2 linked regions of the Homo sapiens genome follow. The protein of the gene in region 2 interacts with the protein of the main gene of each other region in a pairwise test. Each region holds a gene or a part of one and is shown on either strand. Other genes may lie near its edges. The genes, in order: CSNK1A1 and FAM83C.

Region 1 (3,791 bases), on a different chromosome or scaffold from region 2:
TGACTTGCAAAGGAATACCATGTAACAAATGGCTTGAAGTAGTCTATCAAAAAATTGGGGAGATTTTTATTTAATAGTGAGTCAGCAAGGCATTTTTTGTTGTTTAAAAAAAATCTCATTTCCTTACAGAAACAGTTTTTAGTTTTTAATGAACTTGTAAACAAAAAAGCTCCCATTTCAAAATAAAAACAAAATCCCAGATCATATAGATGTTTACAGTGATTACATTTATCTAAGCAACATACATACATGTTCAGTTGTAAGATGTTAACTAAATTTCTGTGACAAATATGCTTTTTTTTTAATACCAAGAACATTATAGAGTTAATGCAGAGTCCTAAGGATAATCTAGTAGTCACTAAGTTTTTCTTAAGTCTTCACTTTAGATGCTGTTATTTCTAGCACAATTAAGCAGGCAGAGTCTTTCATATGCTCAAACACTGGAATCTTTGGTTGCTACCATATCAGCTGGCTTGCAGACAAGAAGCCAACCATTTTAAGAATGTTTTAAGTGAACAACTTGCAAACCCCAGGGATGGAAAAACCCTAAGAATGCACAATTGTGAGCATTTAACAACCATCACAACTGTGGCTGAAGACTGTTCATGCCGTTCTTCTGAAATGAGATCTCAAAGCAGTATAGTTCAAAACAAAAGGTTTTAACAAAAAATTGGCATATGCACAATTTCTCCACCAATTTTTGTGTGTCAACCATTTAGTTAACTTTTCCACTTGAAAAAATGCAATAGAAAACCGGACACCATGTTTCACTATCTCAGTTAATATTCACAATTACAGAGGCTACAACTCAGGATACAGCATCACCAATGCTGCCCAGAGTCAGTTTATACTGAAATTAAGTTCTTTACACCAAGTAAATGGTTGTCCACAACCACTGGCTAGTGTACATATGAACTAAAATTTCTAGATTTGGGGAGAAACAAATGCTGCTCCGATCATCTGCTCTGCTTCTTCTGTTCCTCAATTCATGCTTAGAAACCTGGTAAAAAATCAAAACAAAAAAAAAGTTAAAATTCCAAGTCAAAAATTTTAAATTACACCCAAAATATGGAAATTGGGTGGAACTGAGCCAATAATTATAGTGGCTCATGTTATTTCGTCTCTTGTGAAAAGTATTAGCTCAACTTTTTAAAACAGAAAAACATGAATCTATACTTAAAACTAATTTTTTCTGTTTTGAATGACTCTAGGAAGGAGTGGTACAGTGAATTCAAAGCCTCTCAGCATACTAAAATAATTATTAGTAATTCAAATGAGCATGTTTCTGCATTTTTACATATGCAGAACATATTAGGCATTCACATATTTATCAAATCAATGAAAAACAGATTGCTTTGCTTTAACTAAAGAATACAATTTTAATCCTACCATAGGCACAAATTATTTCTGACACAAATTAAAACGGTTAGCTTTAATAATAAATGCATTCAAAGCATAATTATCTGTATTATTTTACTAAACAAAGACCTGAGAAGCATGTAATTTCTGTAGAGAAACCTTAGACCTTTAAAACTTCTTTACCGGCCGCATTAGAAAGATTGTTTTGTGACTCATTTAAAAATGTAAGCAAGTGATGCTTTTTTGGCTTTATTTACTTCTCAAGCCTACACATTCTACAAATACTTCCCTCCTCCACCACAAGTAGACCCTAGGGCCTCTACATAGGCCCTAGGCCAAGTTTGAATACAAGAAGCCTCAGGTCATAACCACACTTTATCTACAGCTAAAGGCAAAGGGAGAAAATATGCCTGTCCCACAGCAATAGCCTGAAAATCTCTTAAGCACCGTTTTTCCTCTCACCAGACACCCACTCTGAGGCACCAATGCTCCTTTGTCTACCTCCTTACAAATGAGCTAGAAACTATAGCTCATTCTAGCCCACTCCAATCAATCCTCACTTCTTCAGCCCAGGTCATGTTTTCTTCAATCATAAACTGCTCCTTTTCTTTTAGTTCTTTTTTCTTTTTTTTTGGAGACAGTCTCGCTCTGTCACCCAGGCTGGAGGGCAGTGGCATGATCTTGGCTCACCGCAACCTCTGCCTCCTGGGTTCAAGCGATTCTCCTGCCTCAGCCTCCTGAGTAGCTGGGACTATAGGTGCCTGCCACCATGCCTGGCTAATTTTTGTATTTATAGTAGAGACACAGTTTCACTGTGTTGGCCAGGCTGGTCTCAAACTCCTGACCTCGTGATCCACCCGCCATGGCCTCCCAAAGTGTGGGGGTTACAGGTGGGAGCCACCGTGCCCAGCTTCTTTTACTTTTTAAACATTTGTTGGGCCATCTCCCATGGGCTTTGTGGGAGAAACAAAATAATTCTAATATTTATTTCTTATGCATATATGCCCCTTTTTTTTTTTGGGAAATAATAGCGAACATACAAGAGAGTAGGTGCATAATAGATCTTTGTTGCCTGGGTACTAAGTCCATAAGCACCAAATGCCAAAAATGAAAGATAACATAACTTTGAGAATATACTTCACCATAGGGAATATCATTTGATGCATGTTATTAAGAAGTATTAGCGAGGTAAACCTTTCTTTTAAAGGTTGTCAAACCAAACCTTAATAAAAATCTGACTATACCCTGTGACCAAATTTCAATTTTAAAATACAGGAAAAGTTTCAAGCTTCTTGTTTGGGAGTTTAAAAAAGAAAAAAAGTACAATACAGGATAAGCTATGCAGGTTAAGAAACTAAGGATTAAACAGAAATTAAACAGATTAAACAGGATTAAACAGAATTCCCCCATCAGGATTTGGTTTCAAGTCTTGCAATTCTTCTTAAACATGATTTAAAAAACGTATTTTCACAACTACTAAAATTGCTGGGTTTTATCATAGTTTTCTTATGTAATCATATTAAACTAATTGTTATGGTGAATATACCAAATGGCTTTCAAAGGGAAAACCACCATCACTAACAAACTAAAATGGAAACATGCTACATTGTCAGTCAAAATACAAGGAAACTCTTGTGCCTTTAATAGCAAGAAAACTTCAGAATGTATCTGTACATCTTTTGACCTGTTATCTGAGGAATTGCTGAGTCAATAAATGATTACAATTGTTTAGAAACTGGTAAAAGGCTACCCTAACAATATTCCTGGTAGAATAGAGCAGTCAAATCCAGCTTTAACTCTTCAAATGGGTCAATGGTATGACATTCCAGCCAGGGATCAACATTTCTCCAGTGAATTGTCCTAAGATGTTACTGAAGTATGTTTAGGAAAAAACCTCAATAGGAATATTCAACAGGTATTCAACAGTCTTGCAGTACTAAGCATTCTTTTCCCCAATACGCATTGGTCTTTGGTTTTTATCTTGCAGATTAGGTGGCTCATCCAGGCTTCCAAGAGTTCAAGAACCCATCTTCACTGTAACATCAGTTAAAATGAGGAATGAATCCCTTTATTCCTTAAAAAAAAAGGGGAGGGGGAGGGGGGAGTTAAAACAGAGTTGGAGGATGTGATGATTAAGAAGTTAATAGCTTAATTAAATTTCAAATCTGCAAAAAGCAAAAAAAAGTTTATTTTTATATAACTAACAAGGATATTCTATCCCTGCCCGCCACCCAATCTGAAATCTAAAATGTATGCTCTGGCCCAGACGAGGTGGCTCACATCTATAATGCTAACACTTTGGGAGGCTGAGGCAGGAAGATCACTTAAAGCCAGGAGTTCCAAATAAACCTGGGCAACATAGTGAGACTTTGTCTATTAAAAAAATAAACAAAAGATATGCTTTTTTTTTTTTGAGATGGGGTCTTGCTGTT
Region 2 (4,390 bases):
TAGAGATGGAGTTTCACCATGTTGGCCAGGCTGGTCTCAAACTCCTGACCTTGTGATCTGCCTGCCTTGGACTCCCAAAGTGCTGTGATTACAGGCGTGAGCCACCACGCCCAGTCGCTAGTTTTTTTTTAATTCTAATTTTTTGTAGAGATGGGGTTCTCACAAGCTGGTCTTGAACCCCTGGCCTCAAGCGATCCTCCCACCTCAGCCTCCCAAAGCACTGGGATTACAGTCAAATCCCAGCCCAGATTTGACTGTCTTGAACCCCTAGCTGTTTGAAAGCATTTGTGTGCATCCTTCTGTGCACCGAGTGTTTATCCATCATCAGATTCTCAAAGATGACTGTGGATCAGCTGTGCTAGTCCAACACTCCCTCTGCACTGAGCCCCAGATGGGACAGCAGTGAGAAGGAGAACCCAGACCCCAATTCCCAGGCAAGTTCCTGGCACTCCCCCGACTAACTCCAGCCCAGCTCTGACCCAGGGACTGTCTGTCTGAGGCTCCCTTCTCCAGGGTCACAGCTACAAGCCACTTACTGGGGTCTTCGCTGCCCTTTCCCAGTCCTGCCTCAGTTTCCCTGTGAAGCCACAGAGGTCTGGTGTGACCCCTTACACTGCAGACTCCCTTACTTGCACCCATGCCAAATGGATCCAAGTTTTCTGCTCAGTTGAGGGCTGGGCTGGGGCTTGTGCCTCCATCCCATATAAAGGGCTGCCTCAAAGAGGCCCCTGAAACCTTCTTGGCACCTCCCAGCCCCCAGCTGGCCTTTCTTCCCATGGCATATATCTGCTATGAGAGTCTTCTCTCCCAGGCAGGGCCGAGAGGCAGGAGGTACAGAGCATAGCACTCCAGCTCTGGAGTCAGAAAGAACTGGGTTCAAACCTGGACTCTATCACTTCCTGGTGACACAGCTTTGGGTGAGTCCCTTCACCTCTGGAAGCCTCACCTTCCTCATCTGTTAAATGGAGATAATGATAGCCATGTCTCAGAGTTACAGGGAATTAAATGTGAAAATGCTCAAGACATAACAGAGCTCTATAAACATTGGGCTGCAGGGCAACGCAGCATTTCCCAAGGTCACTAGGAGTCATGACAGCCCAGTGCACGAACCTGGCTCCTGACCCAGGATAGAGGGGTCTAAATGGGGGCTGAGAAGGCGAGGCACTGGGGGATGCCCTAGTTCACAGCACAGGCCTGGCCAGGGTGGGGGAACAAGGACAGGCAGGAAGATCAAAGAGGCAGGGGTGAGGAGGACGACAGCAGCAGCCTCACTAATAACCCCATTCCTGATGCCAATCAGGCCTGGCCGTCCCCTGCCTGGGGCACAGGAAGGCTTGCCAGGGAGGCTCTGGAAGTACCGGTGGGATCCCAGCATCCTGGCTTCCCATCTCTGCAGCAGGAGCCTAACTCTCCCTCAAACCCTGCCAGGGATCATCTCGTCCATTCCCCTGGAGTCGGAGGCCAGGGCTTCAGAAGGGAAGCTGTGCTCGTGTGTGGCCAGAGCCTTTCTGGGTGCTGACCACCCCTACCTGCCCTCCCAATTCTCTTTCTCCTGAGCTCCCGCTCCCCATCACTGAGCCCAGCAGCCTCCTCTCCTCCTTCCTCCTTGGTTCCAAAGCCCAGCCCTCAAGGCCACGCCAAAGAGGCCCACACGCTGGCCCCTTCCCCTGCTTCAGGCCCAGCTGCAGATGTGGTGCAGGAGGGTAGGGGGCAACTAGGGACCTGAGCCAGCAAGGAGGGCCGGACTGGTCCCCAGGACCCAAGTCAGAGAGCCCCTGTCTCCCCAAGCCCTGAGCTCTATGTCACCATATGGACCTCCCTGGGCAAGTCCCAAGCCCCTCTCTGGCCTCAGTTTCTTCTTCTATAAGTGAAGGAGGTGACTCAGATGTTCCCCAAGGTTGGAGTTCTTAGTGTGGGGATCATAAAACTTTTTGAGAATCTGATTTAAGGCAGTGGAGCATCTTCCAAGGTAAAGATGCAGCGAGGACTCCTCCCTCCAACCTGCACCACTTCGTGTGCATTTCAGGGGATTGTGGAGTCCCTGACACCCATGCCCTGTTCTATGCTCATCCATACTATTCCTGGGTACCAAGCAGTTGCCAAGGTAAATATGGGATGTCCCCCTTCTAGGAGTTTGCAATCTAATAGTGCCAGAGGTGCTGGTCCTCATTCTGCCCCTAAGTCGCTGTGTGGCCTTGGGCTGGTCCCTTCCCTCTCTGGACCTCAGTTTCCTCCTCTGTGAGATGAGTGATGGAGAGATGAGGCCCTTACCGTGTGGGCCTGGCTGAAAAGGAAGCGCAGCAGGTCCTTGATGTTCTTGGCCTTGTCCCTCTGGAAGTGGACCACAGCCTGGGTGGGGCTGAAGCCTGTGGCCTGTGGCACCTCGGGCCAGCCCAGGTCCAGGTCTGGGGGGTCTATGTCAGAGGCCATGGGGAAGTAAGTCCCTGAGGTGACTTCAGAGAGCAGGCTGAGGCGGTCTGGCCCGGAGGCCTCCTGCCCCTGAGCCTCGCTGAGCTCAGGGCCCCCGCGCACATGGCTGGTCATGTAGTCCACATCCAGGGCGCTCAGGAAGGGCAGCTCCCGCTCCTCGGAGATGACCCGCAGGTAGGCAGCCTCACCCCGCTCCAGGAGGGCGTCGGCCGCCAGCCGAGCCGCCTCGCTGTGCCGCAGCACCAGCGGTGAGCTCTCCCGCCACCACGGCAGCTTCAGCTCTTCCACCCGGCCCCGCAGGGGTCCCGCCATGCCCTGGGCTCCCAGGACCCCAGGCCCCGGGCCTCCGAACATGCCTGCCACGCGGCTGCCTCACCCGCCGGCAGGGCCCATGGCCCGCACGCTGGGCTGGCTGCAGCAGGAAGAGGAGACCAGCAGAACCGCCTTCTGCCCGCCCGCTCGCTGTGTGTGTGGCAGGGCCCCCAAACTGTTGCCACCCTAAATCAGAGCCACGCTCCACCCTATTGCCCCTGGCCTCTGGAACCTGTCAGGTCAGCCCCACCTGTCTGCCTGTGTTGGGACTCGCCTGCCCAGGGAAGCGGCAGTGCCAGGCCCTCGGTGCACACTCCTGCCTCCCTCTCTTCCTCCCAGCAACGCCGCCCCATCCCCACCAGGCTCCCAGCAAGTCTCCAAATGCTGACTTCCCGGGACCCACAGAGGTTGAATTACAGCCAAGAGGGGCCCAGGCGACTCAGGAACACACACTCACACGCACACGCACACACACTGCAGGTGGGTGAGCGACTCAAGACACCCAGGAAAAGACATGAACACCCATGCAGATGGACACACTGACAACTGACCGATACACAGACATGGAGTGTGGGCTGACACAGACCGACCACACATTGTAATCACATCCACTTGCATAAACTCTTCACCCAAACGCCGATGTAGAGACCGGCCATGACCCCCACAACACATACCACAGTGGATAGCACGTGCCCTGGCTCAAGTCTGCAAGGCCCTGAGAGCTGAACGACTGTCACATGGAATATCCAAGGACATCAACGCTGGTCTGTCCCCCAGCCAGCCCTCTTTTTGCTCCCATAATCGTCCTGCCACTCTCCATCATCTTAACTGTGGTGCTCACAGCCCCCTGGCTCTCTCCCACCCCGGCTCGGAGCTGTCCTTCAAGAACCTAGAGCAGTGGCTCTCACCCTGACCCCAGGGGTGGTGAGAGGTGATGAAATGCAGATCCCCGGGCCCCACCCTCCTGGAAATTCTCATCCAGAAGGTGTCCGTAGGCTTCTGGAGCTTGTCTTTTTTCTTTTTCTTTTTGAGATAGGGTCTTGCTCTGTCACCCAGTCTGGAGGGCAGTGGCGCAATCACAGCTCACTACAGCTGTGCCTCAGTTTCTCTGGACTCGAGCGATCTTCCCACCTCAGCCTCCTGAGTAGCTGGGATTACAGGTGCATGTTACCATGCTCGGCTACTTTTAAAATTTTTTTAGAGATGGGATCTCACTATGTTGCCCAGGCTGATCTTGAACTCCTGGCCTCAAGCAATCCTCCTGTCTCAGCCTCCCAAAGTGCTGGGATTACAGGTGTGAGCCGCCACACCTGGCCATTTTTCTTTTTTAATTGAGACATGATCTTGCTCTGTCACCCAGGCTAGAGAGAGCAGTGATGTGATCATAGCTTACTGTAACCTCAAATTCCTGAGTTTTTAAACAAGTGCCCAGTGCACTGTGGGCAGTGGGCTAAGGCCCACCCCTGAGACATGCTGTTCCAGATGGCTGTGCTTGCAACACCCTTAACTCCAGGGATGTTCTTGGCCTGGTGGTGGCCAGACCCCAGCCTTCTTCCCCTCCTCCAGGGCTGAGTATGAAAATGGTTGGAAGGTTGTTTCAGAGAATGGGCGGACACACTGCAAGGTCAGGAGGCAAACAGGGCAGGTA

The links.
Region 1: the proteins of FAM83C (region 2) and CSNK1A1 interact in binary tests that used the Homo sapiens proteins (3 or more experiments, as listed by UniProt).

The regions. Positions count from the first base shown.
Region 1 is NC_000005.10:149,495,861-149,499,651, forward strand, and holds part of CSNK1A1 (casein kinase I isoform alpha), read right to left. Parts: intron 1,001-3,791; coding exon 993-1,000; 3' UTR 1-992.
Region 2 is NC_000020.11:35,289,521-35,293,910, forward strand, and holds the start of FAM83C (protein FAM83C), read right to left. Parts: upstream 2,906-4,390; 5' UTR 2,785-2,905; coding exon 2,272-2,784; intron 1,119-2,271; exon of another isoform or gene 883-1,118; intron 1-882. UniProt on the Homo sapiens protein: May play a role in MAPK signaling.